Regions from separate parts of the Homo sapiens genome. Here regions 2, 3 and 4 are each linked to region 1. Evidence: fine-mapped expression QTL. A gene starts in region 1. Each other region holds a variant in brackets. All regions are shown on one strand. Distances are from middle to middle.

Region 1 (5,266 bases):
TAACATATTTAAGCTGAATTATTTCTCCCAACAACTCTATGATGTGGTGTATCATTTACTATTACCATACTATCACTACATAACAAACCTCACCACAACTATGTAGCTTAAAACCAATAATCATTCATTATTTTCATGCATCTGTGGGCTGACTGAGAGTAGATTGATCAAGACTAGCCTTCGCTGGACTTGCCTCTGAGCTACAAAAGTCGGGTCCAGGCTGGTTCCCTGCATTAGCAAGCTAACTAGGGATGTTCTTCTCAAGACAGTGGCAGAGGCACAAGAAGGCAAGCCTCACCATGCAAAGACATTCCAAGCATCTGTTTGCTACTACACTTGATCTTAGCCAAAAGAAGCGATGCCTCTGTTTGTTATGTCTGCCAATATCCTATGGACCAAAGCAAGTCACATGGCCAGCCACAACTTTAATAGCACAAAAAGGTATAAGCATACTCTTTTCATGAAGGTGGGGTTGGGGGAGAGATATTTGCTAAAAAATAGTCTCATCTACCATTTTTTTTTTCCTATTTCTGGTGAGGAAACTCAGGCACCTAGAAAATAGAAATGGAATGCAAATTCAGTTGGTATAGCTCCACTCTATTCAGTAGAAATCTAGCCTGTATCTCCAATATGAGGGTAGAAACTTAATCTGTTTTGTTTTCTGTTATATTTCCCAGCACCTAGAACAGTGCTTGGCACTTAGTAGGCATTCAGTAAAGATTTGTTAGACAAATGAATGAACTCAGCACAGCACATGGCACATAATTGGTACTTGATCAATGTTAGCTATTATTATTGAGAAAAAATACATAAAACTTGGGAACAAGGTAAAGCCATGTTCATTCACTGTCACATTGAAACACTGCTTCACCGGCCAATGAAAGGATTATTAATTATTTAGGGAAAAGTATCTTTTTTGGACTCATTAACTACTACTGATCGAAGTCTCAAACTCTGAAGTTACGTTTTTATTTACAGATTTTTGTTCAATACAGATGTAATTTATTTTGGAAAAACAAATTATTTTTTAAAAAACAAAGGATTATTTTGCCCTGTATGACATTAGTGAGTGTTGTTTTGAACCTAGCAAGCTGACTCATCCTGTCTTCCTCCAATGCTGCTAAATTTCTTTCTCGAACTGTCCTTGGAACTTACATCATTTTGTTGCTTTCCTCATTTATGAGTTAAATCAATCTTTGACATATCTTCATCTTATATTTCGAGTTACATAGTTAACTTTTTGGAAATTGCACTTTAAAGTTAGCATCATTTAAAAAATTTTCCTGCTAGATTTGAAAGTGGTTATTCACTTTCAATTTAATTCAACTATTATTTACAGAATTCCCGGTTTTCTAGGTTACAGGGATGTGAAGCTGGAATATAAGAGGGGAGAGAAGGAACTGGTGATTGCCAGCCTTGTATACCAGCAACTGGGAGCCCCAAAGATTATTATGGACAATATAAAGCAGCCTTGACAGGTTAGAAGTCATTATCAAAGTTTTCCAAGGCCCTGTGTTATTTCAAGATTCTGATCACATAACTGGAAACTTGTCGATGGTTTTCAGGGGCAGTTAATATCCTGCAAAGAAAAAAATTGTTGAAGCCTCATCTTCTGGAAATGTCTGTCAACATTCAGGTATTAAATGGATTATTGTGGGCAACAGTCCTTCAGTAGCCCCCATGGAAGGGGTGGGGATTGAAGACTTTAGTTTGAAATAAACAATTAACAAAGGAGACTTAAAAGTTTAGTTGAGGACTCCTCCTCAAAATTCTGGTTGCTTTAATAATTAGAATTTCCATAAGAGTCTCAACGAAAGCCACTAATGGACCGCAGTGAAATCCTATTTCAGTATCATGAAACTGTTTTTAATCTGAAGCTTTTTCTCTTTGACCTTTTTACTCTTGAATTAAATGATAAATCTATAGATTTTCGGAACATTTTGGAGATCACGAAAGGGCACTGTGCGTTCTCTTACTGGGTGTACTGAAGTTCCAGTAAGTTTCAGGTTGAGGATGGCAATCAGGAGGACTTCGAATACTTAGATCTTGGATTCCCACAACTAGGAAAGTTGAATTGCAGGACTGGCTCTCTTCTGGTAATATTTGGACACCTTGGGAAAGGTGAATAACAGCCTTCAACTTGGGCCCCGAAACTTCTCTGTTACTTATTTTTGTAACTTAGTTCCTTGCCCATAAAACAAAGACTGACCAGTCAGAGACTTGGCTTTCTACGGATTATGTCAACTAGTCAAGGTAAGAGATTAGCACGGACCTTGGCACAAGAGAGCATTGCTTCATCCAGAGCACTTAACCAATGCTGGGATCTCCACCAAGTGTCCAGTAGGCGAAGGAGCCGGAGGGCAGTGGAGCGAGCGCACTGGGGGCTCAGACCCACCCCGGACACGCGGCTTCTCGGCCGTGTTCGGGACCTAGAGCCCGAGGGCCTCTCCCCTCGGCCTTGGCCTTGGCGTATACTGGGCGGTGGCGCGGTGCGCTCACTCCGCCCCCAGCGGGCTGGGGCGGGGACACCGTCCCCCGGGAAACGGGACGCGCTGCTTGTCCCAGGCCTTCGCTTCGGCCTGCGAGGCTACAGCTGTGCGCAGTGGCGCGGCTGCTAAGTAGCAGCAGGTGGGAGACTAGGGTCTGCGCTCGCGGCGACCGCGGAGGAGGGTGGGCGCCTGCGGAGGTGTCCTCGCTCACTTCGGGGGGCCCAGAGTCTCGGGTGAGGAGCCAGCCGGCCTCGCGTTCCCTCGGACGGTTGCCCAATGGCAGCCCAGGTGGCAGCCCGGGAGGCGCGAGACTTCAGAGAAGCCCCGACCCTTCGCCTAACCTCGGGGGCCGGCCTGGAGGCAGTGGGCGCTGTGGAGCTCGAGGAGGAGGAGGAGAACGAGGAGGAGGCGGCGGCCAGGAGAGCGCGGAGTTTCGCCCAAGACGCGCGGGTGCGCTTCCTCGGCGGCCGCCTGGCGATGATGCTGGGGTTCACGGAGGAGAAATGGAGCCAGTATTTGGAAAGCGAGGACAACCGGCAGGTTCTTGGGGAGTTTCTGGAAAGCACCAGCCCGGCTTGCCTTGTGTTTAGCTTCGCCGCCTCGGGGCGCCTTGCGGCTTCCCAGGAGGTAAGAGGCGACGGGCAAGGGGACCTGCCCATCCAACAAAACTACCCAGGGGAGACAGCCCAGTCGCTCCCCTTTGGATTCCCGCGGGGCGCTCACTCGGGCACTTTAACAAACTTGGCTTGAAGTCCCCATCCTGAGGCCCGCAGGACTCCTCCCCACGTGCACCCACTCTGCAGTTCAGCAGCTGCAGGTTAGTTTCCTAAGTCAGCAGTTTGTATCTGACCGAGAATCCCGCGTTGAGCCTGTTCGACCAGGATAACCCAAGAACACCAGCGCTTTCTTTAGCTGCTTGGGTGTTAGGCGCCAGGTGGGCTTTCTGTGCCAAAAAACTTGCGTTTCAGTTGCTCTTGGGTCACTCTGGAGTCACATCCTTTAAAAAATGGGGTGTTTGGCAGAGCGCATGTAACTCGTCACGTATTTTGATTACGTGCCAACAACACTTCACCCCAGGCAAAAACATTAAGTCCTTAAAAAGGAAGGCCCCTGCAATCTCCGCACACATGGGTGTTTACTGAACATTTAGAGGGAACAGTTCCCTCCTTTCTTCTTTTTCTTCCTTTTCTTTTTGAATTTCGATGATTTGTCCACTAAAAGGTTAACGTATCACCTAACGTACAGCACTTGTATTTAGTATTTTTCAAGTATGATGAGTTTGGAGCAAGATTCACAATTTTTAAGTAGCGCAATGCTCAGTTTAACATGTTATGTCGTTTTATCACTAGGTGTGGTCATTGTAATAGTTGGGAAATAGGATCTCAGAGAAGAAAGAGTAATAGGAAGGCTGCCTTATGGTATTGTGAATTTTGAATTCTTTTGTTTTAGGACTCTCCTAATTGTAACTTTAAAAAAAATAAGTTTGTCAGTAGACAAGGCGATAGAACACAACTCTAGTATTACCTAAGTTAAATAGTTATTATAATGTTCAATGGAATGACTCAGTAGTTGTGGAAATGTTAGCATGTTTTGGTTATACGGTTCTATTCTTTGATAGAAATACAAATTAACCTCTTGGGCTTGTCTTTATCTCAGTTTGGCTTATTTCCAAACCAGAGAAGAGTATAAAAAATAACCCTTTAGGATTGAAACATTTCTACATGCCTACGTGCTCCTTATTTGTTTTTAGTTATAAGATTTTTTTTTTGGTGTATAATGAACTGGTATAATTGGCATGCCTTTAAAAGGTGATATTTCCACACCAGTAATGCTGTGAAATTAGCATTATAAAAGAACAAAGAAAACTGTATACTCGCTGCATACTAGGGAAGAGCCGTAGAAGGACCTTGTTTATAGGGCAGGCAAGATGCCAGGTTTTGTTTCTTCTGCTAGCAATACAGCTACAAGTTGGATATAGTAAATCCTGCTTGTTAACAAGAAAACTACTTGAACTAATTATCTTGCTCTTGTTTTAGATTCCAAGAGATGCAAACCATAAACTTGTTTTTATTTCCAAGAAGATTACTGAAAGCATTGGAGTAAATGACTTTTCTCAAGTGGTTTTATTTGGAGAGTTACCTGCGTTGTCTCTTGGACATGTATCTGCTTTCCTTGATGAGGTACTGGTCTGTCTTTAATATTTAAAGCTTTCACTTATCTCCATGACATTTGAAATTATTTAGGACAACTCCGATAATTAAAAAAAGAAGAGCTAGGAGGGGAAGGGAAGGGGATGGGGGTGGTTAAAAAAAAAAAAAAAAAAAAAAGCTTGTAGAAGCCAGGAGTCTCTAGCCAGGTGGATGGAGTCATAACATCTAGACTGTTCCTGAAAGGAGCTCATGCTTACTGATGCTAATATTCAACAGGTGGCAATTGCAGGGATCATTCTCTCCCTTTCTTCCTTCCAACACAATAGAAGCAAATAAAAAGCAACTTGAATAGGTTCTTGCACCTTAGCAGCAGGTTTTAAGCTTCACATTCAGAGTAGAGACAAATTTACACTTTGAAAATGAGTATTATCAGTTCCTTTTTATACTTGTTAGAAACTAACAGTTAAAGACTAAGATTCACTCATGGCAGATAATGGGAAAAGGTGATGAAAGTGTTAGAAATGGTTCTTAAACTTTCTTTTTCTCCTCTTAAAATAGAGAAATAGTCTTCAACCAATGTTACTGACACTTTAATGTGCATAAGAACTGCCTGGGGATTTTGTGAAA
Region 2 (5,000 bases), 77 kb after region 1:
TGTCCTGTGAACTCTGTTACTTACCTGTGTTTCCTCATGGGACATTCAGTTAGATCTTGTGAATGAGAAAGCAGTGTATACAAGTGGCTTGTACGGAGTGGGCTTGTAATGTACAAATGAGTGGATCCCTTTTCGTTTCTCTGGTTTTGCTCCTTGGTCTAGGAGTTCAAATGCTTTCACTCTTTTCTAATCCAGGAGTTGGGAAATATATGTCAAAGGAGGCAAATTATTAATATATACTGTGTTATATCTTGGGAGCTAGGTTTTTTCCTCCACTTTTCTTTAGGAAATTTGGTCACTCAACAAGGAAGTCCGCGTCTGGGATGCTTACACGGGCCTGGAAGGCACAGTTAAGGACATGACAGCCTCCCTGAGGGCCATCACAGAGTTACAGAGCCCTGCCCTCAGGGACAGGCATTGGCACCAGCTGATGAAAGCTATTGGGGTCAGTATCCTTGGTCTCACTAATGAACCTTTTTATGACTGTGAAGTGTTACTTCTTGGTTTGCATCATCTGAGATGAAGTGTAATTTATGAAAAGACCCCCCTCAGCATAGCCTCTACTTGCTGTGTTATGCCTTTTTGCTGTCTAGAAAAAGTCGCCTGATCCGACCAACAATTTAGAAAAAGGCACCCTCCTCCAGGCTGTCCCCAGGACAGCAGAGCGGAGGCTGGCTTCCATCTCCATTTGTCATCTGGGCTGGTGTCCACGTTCAGTACACAGATTGCACAACTAATCAGGGTGGCCCTATTACTCATCTCTCCTCATTCTTTCTCAAGGACAGACCTAGCTCCCTGGCTCCCAGCAACTCTGGAGTGAGGCCAAAGTTGACACAGAGATAGTCTGGCAAACTCATCTAGCTTTCTCAGGACTTTCCAGATTTTAGCACTGAAAGTATCACATCCCTGAAATCCACTTGCTAGAAACCCCTCAGTCCGGAGCAAATCAGGGCATTTGGTCCTCTTATGCAGAGGCGTGGATGGTGCTAAGGAATGTTAGAGGGTAGGGAGGGGCAGAGGGTGGCAGCTTCCAAGAAGCAGATTCTGGATATTCTTAGCAAAAGCCGGAAAGAAAATGGCTTTCCTGCAACCCATATGGCTGGCTCAACTCTTCACTTACAGGAGACATGAGTGAGTTTGGGTATGTCGAAGAGCTGAGGATGTCTCAAGGACCCAATATAGGGGAGGGAAGGAGAGTCAATGTGAGAGAAGGGGAGTCATTGTCACAAGACAATGTGGAAATGAGAATTATTTTTCACATGGTAAATATGAATAATGACACTGTAAGACTATTTTTTTTGCCAATGAACTGAGATTAAATTAGTGATAAAACTAGGTTAAATCACAGAAGCAGCTGGGAATTATGTTCAGTGAATAGGGTTCTTTAGGAAGAAAAGACAAATGAGCCACTACCTGATTCCTGGGATTTCAACCAAATTATAATAAATGAACAATGAGATTCTCTTTAAAAATGGGTTTTGTGGGCAAAGGAGATAAGAAACGTGCCGACAAGGGAAAGATGTGAAACAAAGAAAATAGTGTAGCACGGATGTGACTAAACTGTGGCCCTTGCTTCCGGCAGGTGACGCCTCAGGAATTGTGAGTTAAAAAGGAGTGTCTTAGATTCTCCACGTATTTCAAGACGAGAGATGTACTCAGCACCTGACTTGAGTATATTTTAGTTAAGATTCATTTCACCAGCCTTTAGGCAAAAGGAACCGTTCATATATGTGGAATATAAAGTCTAACTTTTTTTCCCCCAATCAGGTCAAGTTTTTAATAAATGAAGCCACAACTTTGGCAGATTTGTTAGCACTGCGGTTACACAGAGTGGAAGATGATGTCCGAAGGATTGTGGACAAGGCGGTGAAAGAGCTGGGGACTGAGAAGGTAGTGTCCTCGGGACTGGGTCATTTCTACTTGGCTAATTTTGGGTATTTGCATAGAAGCCAACTTAGAGAAAAGTCCTTTTGATGTCCTGGGAGCCTGGAGAGATGAGTCCCAGTTTGTTCCCTGCTGTTCATTAGGTGTGGGATGAGCAGGAACTAGAATCATTCTAAGCCACAGTAAAACAGGAGGATTGGTCTTGTTGATGATGATGATTATAGCAGAAAATACTTACATATCCTTTATTTTGTAGCCAACACCACTCTGAGTGCTTTATTTATATTAACCCATTTAATCTTCTGAGGTAAGTAATAGTATCTCTATTTTACACATGGGGAAACTGAGGTATAAAGAGATAATTAACTTACCCAGATTCACACAGAAGACTGAGATTCATTCACATTTGAGGCATTACCTGTTTCATGCTGGCTAATTTGTAAATAGTATCTACCAAACATTTAAGTCCCTTCCTGCTCTTGAATTGTGTTTTGGTTAGGGATGATAAACTCACATTCAGTAGAAGTTTGATGTTAGTGTGATGCTCATACCTTTGATGTGATAAAATTCATTCTTCAAACCCCATTAGCATGAATTACTTGGAGGAAAAAACTCAAGCCAATAATACTTGATATCAGTTTGCATTTTTGAAAGTTGAAAAAAATTAATTCCAGATAATAGTCTACATATTGATTATCAATTAAATTTTGTGCACATTAATTATATTGTTGATTACTAGGTTATTACTGAAATCAGTCAGACCTGGGCAACCATGAAGTTTTCTTACGAAGTTCACTATCGAACAGGCAT[T/C]CCATTACTAAAGTCTGATGAACAACTTTTTGAAACTCTAGAGCACAACCAAGTAAGATGGATATTTTTATTGCATATATTTTTCATTTTATTTTTATTTGACAAATAATTGTATATATAGGGTACCATGTGATGTTTTGATGTATGTTTACAATGTGGAAAGATTAAATCAGGCTAACCGTCATCTCATACACTTAACATTTTTTTTGTGGTGAATCACTTAAAATCTCCTTTAGGAATTTTGAAACATACAATGCATTATTATTTATTGTAGTCACCAACTGTGCAATAGATCACTAAAGCTTATTCCTCCTGTCTAACTGAAAATTTGTACCCTTTGATCAACAGCTCCTCTTGCCCCCTCCCCCCGGCTCTGGTAACCATCATTCTACTCTCTGTTTCTATGAGTTCAACTTTTTTAGATTCCACGTGTAGATGGCATCGTACAATATTTGTCTTTTTGTTCCTGGCTTATTTTGCTTAGCACTGTCCTTTAGGGTCATCCATGTTGTTGCAAACCAGGATTTTATTCTTTTTTTTAAATTTTACTATTATACTTTAAGTTTTAGGGTACACGCGCACAATGTGCAGGTTAGTTACATATGTATACATGTGCCATGCTGGTGTGCTGCACCCATTAACTCGTCATTTAGCATTAGGTATATCTCCTAAAGCTATCCCTCCCCCCTCCCCCCACCCCACAACAGTCCCCAGAGTGTGATGTTCCCCTTCCTGTGTCCATGTGTTCTCATTGTTCAATTCCCACCTATGAGTGAGAATATGCGGTGTTTGGTTTTTTGTTCTTGTGATAGTTTACTGAGAATGATGATTTCCAATTTCATCCATGTCCCTACAAAGGACATGAACTCATCATTTTTTATGGCTGCATAGTATTCCATGGTGTATCTGTGCCACATTTGCTTAATCCAGTCTATCCTCGTTGGACATTTGGGTTGGTTCCAAGTCTTTGCTGTTGTGAATAGTGCCACAATAAACATACGTGTGCATGTGTCTTTATAGCAGCATGATTTATAATCCTTTGGGTGTATACCCAGTAATGGGATGGCTGGGTCAAATGGTATTTCTAGTTCTAGATCCCTGAGGAATCGCCACACTGACTTCCACAAGAGTTGAATACAAACTACCATCAGAGAATACTACAAACACCTCTATGCAAATAAACTAGAAAATCTAGAAGAAATGGATAAATTCCTCGACACATACACCCTCCCAAGACTAAACCAGGAAGAAGTTGACTCTCTGAATAGACCAATAACAGGCTCCGAAATTGTGGCAATAATCAATAGCTTACCAACCAAAAAGAGTCCAGGACCAGATGGATTCACAGCCGAATTCTACCAGAGGTACAAGGAGGAACTGGTACCATTCCTTCTGAAACTATTCCAATCAATAGAAAAAGAGGAAATCCTCCCTAACTCATTTTATGAGGCCAGCATCATCCTGATACCAAAGCCGGGCAGAGACACAACCAAAAAAGAGAATTTTAGACCAATATCCTTGATGAACATTGATGCAAAAATCCTCAGTAAAATACTGGCAAACTGAATCCAGCAGCACATCAAAAAGCTTATCCACCAGGATCAAGTGGGCTTCATCCCTGGGATGCAAGGCTGGTTCAATACACACAAATCAATAAATGTAATCCAGCATATAAACAGAACCAAAGACAAAAACCACATGATTATCTCAATAGATGCAGAAAAGGCCTTTGACAAAATTCAACAACCTTCATGCTAAAACTCAATAAATTAGGTATTGATGGGACGTATCTCAAAATAATAAGAGCTATCTATGACAAACCCACAGCCAATATCATACTGAATGGGCGAAAACTGGAAGCATTCCCTTTGAAAACTGGCACGAGACAGGGATGCCCTCTCTCACCACTCCTATTCAACATAGTGTTGGAAGTTCTGACCAGGGCATTTTGGCAGGAGAAGGAAATAAAGGGTATTCAATTAGGAAAAGAGGAAGTCAAATTGTCCCTGTTTGCAGATGACATGATTGTATATCTAGAAAACCCCATTGTCTCAGCCCAAAATCTCCTTAAGCTGATAAGCAACTTCAGCAAAGTCTCAGGATACAAAATCAACGTACAAAAATCACAAGCATTCTTATACACCAATAACAGACAAACAGAGAGCCAAATCCTGAGTGAACTCCCATTCACAATTGCTTCAAAGAGAATAAAATACCTAGGAATCCAACTTACAAGGGATGTGAAGGACCTCTTCAAGGAGAACTACAAACCACTGCTCAATGAAATAAAAGAGGATACAAAGAAA
Region 3 (5,000 bases), 31 kb after region 1:
TATGACCCATCTGATTGCACTAACATGGTAATGTTGTACCTTTGCATTTTCATTGCATGGGATCCTATAATTTTATAGCTGAAAAGGAAGATAGGTCACAGTGATAATAGGGACCATCCATTCCAATATCTCTAGGACCAAAAGAGGTTACATGACTTGCCTGAAGTCTTGTAGCTACTTAGTTAGTAGATCAGGGATCAGAACTTAAGCTTTTGCATTTTCAGTTCAGAATGACGGCTGATAAAACTGCAGACCTCAGTCTGGATTTGTATCTTGTTTGTGTATGCTAAACAGAAACTTTCCACATGAATTCATTTTGATCTGATGTCCATGTAACTCGTGCTTTATTTTAGCATTTTCTTGAATCACTGGATGTTTTGTTTTTTGATTCACCTGAACACTTGCTTTCACCCCAGTCATTAAGTGTATCATTTACATGTTGGTTGTTTCTTATAATTTTTGTTATTCTTGAGAGCTGATTATAATTTCATATTTCCAACCACAGGAAAGGGGGAACCTTTCTGATTTAAGCTGCTTCTGTGCTCTGTCAGTTCCAGCATGTTAGTAGCCAGGGAGCTACCTGTGAGCATCCCTGCAGTTCTAGGATAAAAATAGCTTCATTTTAGTAGTTTGCCAAGAACAGCGAAGCCCAAGTCCAAAAGAATGAAGATTTAGCTCTTGTTCTTATTATTGTATATGTAATGTGAGTTTATTCACTATTGTTTATATTTGGCCAAACAATTGATTCTTTGAAGTGTACGAGTGCAGTATGTTAGCTTTATAAGGATGTAGTTAGCAAACTTAAGCCCTCTGAATTATAGTCAGTTTTGGAAAGTGGAGTTAATGGTAGAAGGACACTGCTGTAATAGGTGACTTTTTGCTAAACCAGGGCACTACACTTTGTGAAAAAGTATGAGGAACCTAGGATCATGGTGATGAATAATTTGAGTGAGCTCATCCCCAAAGCCTTGTAAGATGCCTGGCACTTGGAAGGCATTCAATAAATACGTACAGAATGGGATTCTTAAGAGAGCCTCTAGGTTAGCGCCGCTGAACGAGCTAGTGGAGGAGGAGTGTGAGACTGAGCCTGCACAAGATCCTTGGGGACATTTGGATTGCAAGAGAGTCTTGATTTTGTTATAATTACAAAAACTGGCAAGTTTTCAGAGTGCCAGAATTAGAGAATGTGGCCAGGTTTAATTGACGTCACTACCTTGGCCATGCCAAAGGTCCTGATTTTACTCCTGTCTCTGCCTAAAGCCTGCATAGTCACAAACATGTAGGAATAGAAAATTCATTTACTCTTGAGGTATATATCTGCTTGGTATTTGTATTTTGGAAGCCTATTCTATTTTGCAGATAAGGTGGGCAGGGTTTACCTCTGATCTTCGGTCTGGTTGGAGACATCATAACCTTCCCCTGAAGTTCCCTTCATCCTCCTGTCTGATTCTTGCCTTAGAATCTAGAAGCTCCTTGACTTTGGTCATTCCCTAAAATTAAAACATGAATTAACTAAAAGTTAACTTAATCAGCATACTTATGTTGAAAATGACCATTACTTTTTTAAAAAAATGTGTTTTGCCTATCATTATTACTTTAAAATATTGCATTTATCATATATTTTTGCTTAATAAGCTGTTCATTTTGGTGCTTTTTAGCTGAGTTCCTTGTACTTTGACTTCATGATGAAATCAGTTGGTAGTTTTTGAGACATTATTTTAACAAATGACTTCCAACCTAGTGTATGCATATATTTGCATGTACATATGAATACATGCCCAACCTCTGCCCTTCCCCTCCCATTGCATTCACCCCCATGTTCCTGCTCCTGCCCCATCCCCTCTGACTACAAACTAGTGCTTATATAACAGGGAAGTGTGTCAGGGTCAGCCATTCTGCCCTTTGGTATATACATGGTTTAAATATGTTCCAGTAAATTAAAGAAATGATCACTGGTAATTTGCTTTTTGAAATGCTGTTGTTTATTTCTCTTCTCATCAATCTCATGCCTACTAATCAGGCTTTGAGCCTTTATTGGCGTACCGAAAGGTTTGCTGCCGTGGTCCATTTACAGAATGTGGGGATTTTATCAGGTGTGCCCATAAAAATGGTTTTGGGTTTCTCAATTATTGAATGTTACTTTAGGTGTTTTCTTTGACATCTTCTTAGGGGACTGTTTGAAATCTAGACAGTTATGGGAAGAGACTTGCTTTCTTCATTATTAATGTTGAACAGTTAGTCCAGCAATATTAGACTCAGTAATTTTGCTGTCTTTCT[G/A]TGGTGTTTCTTGATGAAATCCCTCAGATACCTAAGCAAAGATGGTAGCTATTCTTGTTGAGGGTAACCCCTTGGCTCCACTTAGTCTCTGTTAATGAGAGCCAGTTAATATTTATGGACGAAGTACTGGATGCCAGGCGTTGTGCCAGAGATTTCCCACATTATATACCTGCTTAATTTTCACTATAACCCAGAGAGTGGTCCCGCAGGCAAATGACAGTTTCACTAAATTACCTGAGATTATAGTTTCCAGTTGGTGGAATGGAAGTTTGAATCCAGAACTCTCAACCACAAGCCCTGCATACTTTTGTTTTCCCTCCCTCCCTCCCTCCCTTCCTTCCTTTTTTTTTTTTTTTTTAAGACAGAGTCTCACTCTGTCGCCCAGGCTGGAGTGCAATGGTGCGATCTTAGCTCACTGCAACCTCTGCCTCCTGGCTTCAAGTGATTCTTCTGCCTCAGCCTCCTGAGTAGCTGGGATTACAGGGGCACACCACCACGCCCAGGTAATTTTTTTGTACTTTTAGTAGAGATGGGGTTTCGCCATGTTGGCCGGGTTGGTCTCAAACTCCCGACCTCAGATGATCCACCCTCCTTGGCCTCCCAAAGTGCTGAGGAGATTACAGGCGTGAGCCACTGCACTGGGCTTTTTTTTTTTTTTTTTTTTTTTTTTTGAGACAGTTTCACTCTGTCACCCAAGTTGGAGTGCAGTGGCATGATCTCAGCTCACTGCAACCTCTGCCTCCCAGGTTCAAGTGATTCTCCTGCCTCAGCCTTCTGAGTAGCTGGGATTACAGGAGTGTGCCACCATGCCCAACTAACTTTTGTATTTTTAATAGAGATGGGGTTTTCCACCATGTTGGCCAGGCTGGTCTTAAACTCCTGGCCTCAAGTGATCCACCTGCCTCGGCCTCCAAAAGTGCTGGGATTACAGGCATGAGCCACCATGCCCAGCCCCTGCATTCTTTTCACTGCACCACCCTGTTAGTATTTATCTTGCTTGTTGCATCCTCATTGAAATGAAAGGAATAAGTTCATCTGTGGGAACTCACCTGAGGACCTATGGCCTGAGATGGAGTGATCCAGGTTGCTGTGTCTGCTTTTCTGCTGATTTTCAGTGGGAAGCTTTATTCAGGTGCCTTGTTCACCATGATATCAGAATCTAAAATACATTTTAAAAGTAGTTATTTAGTTCATCTGTACTAGGTTGTATTCTAATTCCTAGAACGAGTCTATTGTTCTGCTGTCACTCACTGAACTATTCTTTTGCTATTTATGTAGTGTTTTCTCATTTTAATTAAACAGATTTCATCTTTATTAGTCATACACAGCATTTTCATGTTTTGCCTGCCTATTATTCAAGATTAAATGAGTTATTTAGCAACCTTCCTTAGTAATTCTTTTGGAAAGGTAACATCTGTAAAAACTTAGTCCCTTTCTTCTCACCCTATGGCCTTTTCCCTAGTCTTCCATTTTTCCTCCCCAAAGGCATCTCTATTAAAAATTTCTTATATGATGTTCCAGAGATATTTGGTGCATGCACTGGCATATACATATATTTATTCCTTTGTTTTCTGCTTTTGCATTAATAGCATTTATACCTTGCTTTTATCCCTTACTATATTTTGGCAGTCATTCTGTGTCACTACAATAGCATTGCTCATCTTAAAACAACTGCGCATTCCATCAGATTTATATACTAAAGTTTATCTTATTTATTTTAAAATGTCATTTAGTAGATATCATTGTTTAAAATTTTAATGAGAAACTTCTGCTTCTGGAAAGAGGGAGATGTACTTTTCCCTACTGCTCCCAGTAAGTGCAACTAAAACACTGGCCGTTATACAGTAGCATGGCTCACCTGTCACCGAGACTCCTCTAGATCTTGTTGCTGCTGAGTATCCTACCTGCCAGCGATGGAGATTGACTCTGAGGCTCCACCATGGTATTATCCCTTGAGGAGACCAAACAGCTGCTTGGCAGGAAGTTAATTACCCAAGAAGGACAGCGATTCATCTTGTACAGGATTGATACATATTCCAAGGTTGTGTCTTCCTTGCCTGCCTGAAAGGCCTCAGCAAGCACGGCGGCCACAAACAACCCTTGAAAATGTCTATTGCAGGAAGCCCAGAAAGGAAGCACCAAGTTGGTTTAAGGGACTGTTCTTGGGGTTGTAGGGGAGAGGAGATAAAAGGAAGCCAAGATCTGAGATCCCAGAAGATCTTAATACTGACTCAAGACTCTCTTGAAAGATGTAAACTCTGATAGAGGGTATGGATAATATGTTTGATCCTTTCTAGGGCTTAAGCCAAGACCCTATCAAGCAAGTAAGTGGGAGATTGTGCTTATAAACAGCTCTTTTGAAGTAAGACAGATGTTCTCCTTGCTTCTCAGAATATTTTAGGCCAAAGCATTTTGTGGGCATAAATTAGCCTAATATCAGTGTCAATGCTGTATTTCAGCTTACTCGTGAAGACCTGGTCTTTGTGCTGTAAGCAATTAAGAAAGACAGAATTCTTAAGTGTATTTCAAGGAAATGTAAAAACAAAGTGTTCAATGCACACTTATGTATATATATTATGATGTTTATAACAAAAGTGTGAAAACACACATGGGAAAGATTGAAACTTACTTTGGGGTAGTGGTTTTCTGGGCAGGCAGAAAGAGAAATGTGTCTATGTGTGTTACTACTTATTTCTGAAATAAAATAACAGTATCTGAGAAAA
Region 4 (5,000 bases), 50 kb after region 1:
TGCACCCAAATTCTGATCTGTTTCCCTAAAATATGTACAGAGAATAGTTGACTTTATTTTGCTAGTAAAACTCAGCACACATACCTAAATATATGACATAGTTAACTGAGGATTCGTTCTACTTTCTGATTTCATAAAACCAATTTATAGAAACTAATTTCTTGAGATGTTTAAGGATAATTCATATACCTTTACTATATTATGAATGTATGATTTTTGTTTTTAAAAAGTATATGAAACAAAAGTCTATTTACCTTGATTTGGAAATATAGTAATACTTGGATAACATCTTAAGTATTTCAAGTTAAACTTGAGTTAAAATAGAATGACATTATGAAAATATGCAATAATTTTAATAATTGTATTTTAATAGCTAGTGGCTGTATTGAGAGAAGTGAAATATCTTTTGATGTTGAAGAAACAAGACATACCAGATTCAGCTTTAGCCATCTTCAAGAAAAGGAACACTATTTTAAAGGTTTGTGATTTTTGTTAAAAAAAAGATACTAGGGCCTATTATGAATATAAATATTTTGAATTTTAATTATTATATAGATCTATATGATATTTTTACACCTTTAAGACAGAGAAAATAGCTAACATATTTGGCACTTTTTGTTTTGGGGTTTTCTTTGCTCAGTACATTGGAAATCTTGACCTTCTTGTGCAAGGGTATAATAAACTCAAACAGACGCTCCTGGAAGTTGAATACCCTCTGATTGAAGATGAGCTGAGGGCTATTGACGAGCAGCTGACAGCAGCCACAACGTGGCTGACATGGCAGGATGACTGCTGGGGCTACATCGAGAGGGTGAGGGCAGCCACGTCCGAGTTGGAGCACAGAGTTGAGCGCACACAGAAAAACGTGAAGGTGATCCAGCAGACCATGAGGGGCTGGGCCAGGTGCGTGCTACCTCCCAGGAGAGAGCACAGACGAGAGGCAGCCTTCACCTTGGAGGACAAGGGTGATTTGTTTACAAAAAAATACAAGTTAATCCAAGGAGATGGCTGCAAGATCCACAACTTGGTCGAGGTAATGGCTTTTAACCTTTCAAGATTTATAGATCTTTTCATTGAGTTCAGAGAAGAGCAAAAATCTTTAACCTAATAATGTGGGACTCTTTTATCAAGCCTGAAAGAGCTTTATGAATGGTATTATTAGGCATTTAAAGTGGAGGAATTTGTGTTACTTGCCTGCAATTTCTGTAGCCCTCACCACTGTCATTCCTGAGGGAAGAGATTAGAATGTGAGATGTGTTGATTAAACAGAAAGGCTAGTGATAGAATCTTTATCTTGTCACAGTTGCATCCTCTTTTGGATGCTCCTTATAGCTACCACTGTTTGTTGACTGCCTCGTATGTGCCAAACAAACAACTTCCTTAGGTCATCTCAAGGTACCCTCTCAACCATCTCCTAAGGGTGGCAACAATAATTACTCTCCTTTTAACAAAGATTTGAGTTCCTAAAACAGTAACAGGCACTCATCTAGGCTTGTGAATGCAAGAGAAAACAGAAAAAAAACACACACACACACACAAAAGGCAGAAGGCAGGAAAATAAAAGCAAACAACACAATGCTCCCCTGCCAACCACCACCAAATCCTTTATTTCATGGAGCTTACACTCTAGTCAGAGGAAGTTAGCAAGAGAAAAGAACAAATAGATATGTCAGTTGTAATAGGAGCAATGATGAAAAATAGAGCAGAGCAGGTGGGATAGGGAGTCGCTTGCGGGTAGGGTGGTTGGGCAGGCCTCTTTCCTAAGATAGTATTTCTGCAGAGAACTGACAGGGAACAAAGCATATGGATATCAGGAGAAGAACATTCTGGAGAGCAAAAGTATAGACACTTTGAGGCAGGAGCAGCCTGGCCTGTTCCAGGATCAGTCAGCAAACTGAGATCAGAATTTGCAAGGGGAGTGGTAGTAGAGGGTGAGGTAGAAGAGACTAATGGTACATTATGTGGGGTTAGCAGGCTGTTATGAGGACTTTGGATTTTACCGTAAGGGGAAAGAGCAGCCAGAGACTTTCTGCTCAAAGGCTTTCCCTGTGGAGGGTAAGCCACAGGCAAGCAAAGAAGTGGTTGGCAGGGAGACTCTTCAGAGCCTATGCTAATAATCCAGGTGAGAAATGATGCTGCCTTGGGTCATAGTGCTAGTGATCAAGGCAGTTCATATCCTGCAGATATTTTGATGGCAGAGCCAGCAGAATTTGCTTTGAGGAATCAGAGGAGAGAGAAGTCAAGGATGATTTCAAGGTTTTTGGTCTGAGTGATTGGACTGGACTGGGGTTGCCCTTTAATGATATGAGGAAGACTGTGGTGAGCAGATTTTGTAGCAGAAAAAAAAAGGAGGTTTGGTTTTGGACAAGTTAGTTAGAGATGCTTGTCCTAAGGGACATTTTGAGTAGACTAGAATTGCAAATGTGTCTTGTGTTCAGGGCAAAATCCAGGTAAGTAACAGAGAATTGAGATTTATGCACATATGTATGGTATTTAGAGCCATATAATTAGATTAAGAACATGTGGGAATTGTAGATAGAAAAGAGGCCCAAAAACTAGCCTCGAAGTCCTCCCTAGGTCAGGGAGAAGAGGAAAATCCCACAGAGGATACTGAAAAAGAGAGAGTGATGCCCTGGAAACCAATAATAGAAGGGATTTCAAGGAGGAGGAAGAGCTCAACTCTGTCCCATCCTGACGTAGGACCTGAAAATAAAGACGGAGGCTAACCCTCAGATCTGGCAGCACGGAAGTCATTGGGATGAGGAGAGGTGATTTCATGTGGTGGCAGAGTGGAAGCTTGGTGGGAGTGGGCTGATGAGAGAATGGGGAAATATGAGTGGAGGCAGCTGAGGAGATCCTGAGGAGCTCTGCTGTGTGGCAAACCAACAACTGGGCAGTACCTGGGGCCTGTGTATCAGGGTGGGGAGGGTTTTATTTTTAATAGTGGTTGATGTTTCAGGATGTTTGTATGTTAACTGCAGTAATCTAGGAAGGAGAAAAAATTGTTGGAAGAAAGCCATTGAGG[GA/G]AATGGGATTTAGTAAATACCTGTAGAAGGTGTCTTTAGACAGGAGCGCGGAGCATTCATCTGTAGTACAGGATGGAGGGAAGGCAAAGATAGGAATGTGGTGCTCACAGATGTGCAATGCTGATGATGGGAACATGGGGAGTTGATTTCTTGTTGTTACTATTTCTTAAGGAAAAAAGGGATAGGAATGAAAGAGCGTATTTCATGTTTCCTCTGAGCATCCTTGTTATGTGGAGTCTTCTCTATAGACCAGCACAGTCCTTAATCCATGAATACTCTCCTTTGGGCAAGGCAGACAGACCCCCTCCCCTGCCCCTGCTCCCCCCAGACACAAAATCTCTCTCTCTCTAACACACACACACTCTCTTTCACACACACATACTCTTTTTCTCTGTATGTCACATACTCTCACACACAGTCTCTTCCTCTCACATATCACACACACACTCACACACACTCTTTCTCCCTCATGCACACTCTTTCATACACACATACACACACACACACACACACACACACACACACACACTCTGAAGCCATCATGAAGTAGCACAGTGTGGGGTAGGGAAAGTGTCCTTGGTAAAGGCTGGAAACCAGAGTCTTCCAGAGGCTGGGCCTGAATTTTCTCATGTGTAAAATGAAGGTCCTTGTCTCTAGGATAATTCTCAGCAGAACAAGAAATAGATTACGGTTTTCCTGCTGGGAATTGTATGCAACCCATTATGTATCTTGTCTTTGCAGTCCATCATCATTCACTTATTTGAGAAATATTTATTGTGAGCATTGTGTGTACCCAGCACCTTTCTAGGTTTTTGAAATATGAGAGCAGAGCAGACAAAGTTCCTTGCTCTCATGGAACTTGAATCAAGTGAGGAGAGAGACAATAAGCAGTGACATAGTAAGTCGTGCTGTGTTAGAACTGGTACGCGCTGCAGGAAAAAGATCAAATTGGAGCAGGGCAAGGGAATTCTGGAGGGTGGGGTCGAGGATGCAGTTTTAAGTAGGATGATCAGAGTAGGCCTCAACCAGAAGGTGAAATTTGAACAAAGACTTGACAGAGGTGATAGAGTCAGCCAAGTGGGCCTTTGGTGAAGAGTGTTCCAGGCAGAGGAGATAGTTTTGGGGCAGGAGATCCCTGGGCATGCTCGAGGAGGAGCAGGGAAGTAAGTGTGGGGGGAGTAGAGGGAGCTGAGTGGAGAGTTGCTGAGGTGAGGTCAGACGCTAAGCTGCGTGGTGAGGGACTGGCAGCTCAGGGGAGGCTTCATAGGCCTTTTTGCAGATTCTGGCTTTGGCTCACTCTGAGGTATGTGAAAGACACTGCAGAATTTTGAGATTTTGAGAAGGGGAGTAAATACAATCTGACTTTCATTCTAAAAGGATTTCTGGCTGTTGTGTTGAGACCCTCTGTAGGGAGGCTAGGGAAGAGGCAGGCCGACCTGGTAGGTTGCCATTCTTACTAGTAATCTAGGGGTTCCGTATGTTCAGGCTGATATAGCAAAATACTCTAAACTGAGTAGCTTTAAAACAGCAGAAATGGTTATCTCATAGTTCTGGAGGACCAGGTGCCAGCATGATCAGTTTCTGGCAAGGCCCCTCTTCTAGGTTGCAGACTGCCAACTTCTCATTGTGTCCTCACATGGAGGAAGTTCCCCTGGGCCTGTTTCATATAGGCAGTACTTTCATTCATGAAGGCTCTGCCCTCAGGACCTAATCACCTCCTCCTAAACCCCTCCTCATAATACCATCCCCTTGGGGGTTGGGATTTTCACATTCAAATTTTGGGAGGACATAAGCATTCAGACAGTGGCACAGGCACGTAACAGATGATGGTGCTGGACCAGGGTGGTAGCAGTGAAAGTGATTAGAAGTAGTTGGATTCTGGATATATTTTGAATTAAGTGGAGCAAACAGAGTTTCCCAAAGACTGGATGTGGAGCACGAAAGAAAGACACGTTAAAGATTATTCTACACATT

Which allele goes with the higher level. Alleles are on the strand shown, and positions count from the first base shown. SD is a standard deviation of normalised expression in the study named. Not every link is listed here.
For the expression in liver of the gene that starts at base 2,559 in region 1, allele G in region 3 goes with a lower level than allele A (large effect, 0.82 SD a copy in GTEx).
In carriers of allele G in region 4, the expression in esophagus muscle of the gene that starts at base 2,559 in region 1 tends to be lower than with GA alone (small effect, 0.38 SD a copy in GTEx).

What was found. PIP is the estimated chance that this variant, and not a neighbour inherited with it, causes the effect.
Region 2: its variant is the best candidate, but not a certain one, in a credible set for the expression of DNAH11 in aorta (GTEx, PIP 0.54).
Region 3: its variant is the best candidate, but not a certain one, in a credible set for the expression of DNAH11 in liver (GTEx, PIP 0.88).
Region 4: its variant is the best candidate, but not a certain one, in a credible set for the expression of DNAH11 in esophagus muscle (GTEx, PIP 0.84).

What each region holds. Positions count from the first base shown.
Region 1 is chr7:21,540,481-21,545,746 of GRCh38, forward strand. It overlaps DNAH11 (dynein axonemal heavy chain 11), which reads left to right and starts at 2,559. Exons shown (of 82, transcript NM_001277115.2): 1 at 2,559-3,116; 2 at 4,526-4,669. The coding sequence starts at 2,766. RefSeq lists enhancers at 1,881-2,382, 4,715-5,266 and a silencer at 2,431-2,480.
Region 2 is chr7:21,617,333-21,622,332 of GRCh38, forward strand. DNAH11 (dynein axonemal heavy chain 11) reads left to right here. Exons shown (of 82, transcript NM_001277115.2): 23 at 287-445; 24 at 1,768-1,890; 25 at 2,624-2,746. Among named protein-coding and RNA genes, the nearest start is that of DNAH11, 77 kb to the left of the region's middle. The variant T/C (reference allele first, on the strand shown) is at 2,695.
Region 3 is chr7:21,571,947-21,576,946 of GRCh38, forward strand. It overlaps DNAH11 (dynein axonemal heavy chain 11), which reads left to right. Exons shown (of 82, transcript NM_001277115.2): 8 at 1-27. It overlaps LOC105375183 (a long non-coding RNA gene), which reads right to left and starts at 4,196. Exons shown (of 4, transcript XR_007060247.1): 1 at 4,136-4,196; 2 at 3,327-3,436; 3 at 1,380-1,490. The variant G/A (reference allele first, on the strand shown) is at 2,278.
Region 4 is chr7:21,590,545-21,595,544 of GRCh38, forward strand. DNAH11 (dynein axonemal heavy chain 11) reads left to right here. Exons shown (of 82, transcript NM_001277115.2): 13 at 374-478; 14 at 641-1,033. Among named protein-coding and RNA genes, the nearest start is that of DNAH11, 50 kb to the left of the region's middle. The variant GA/G (reference allele first, on the strand shown) is at 3,026.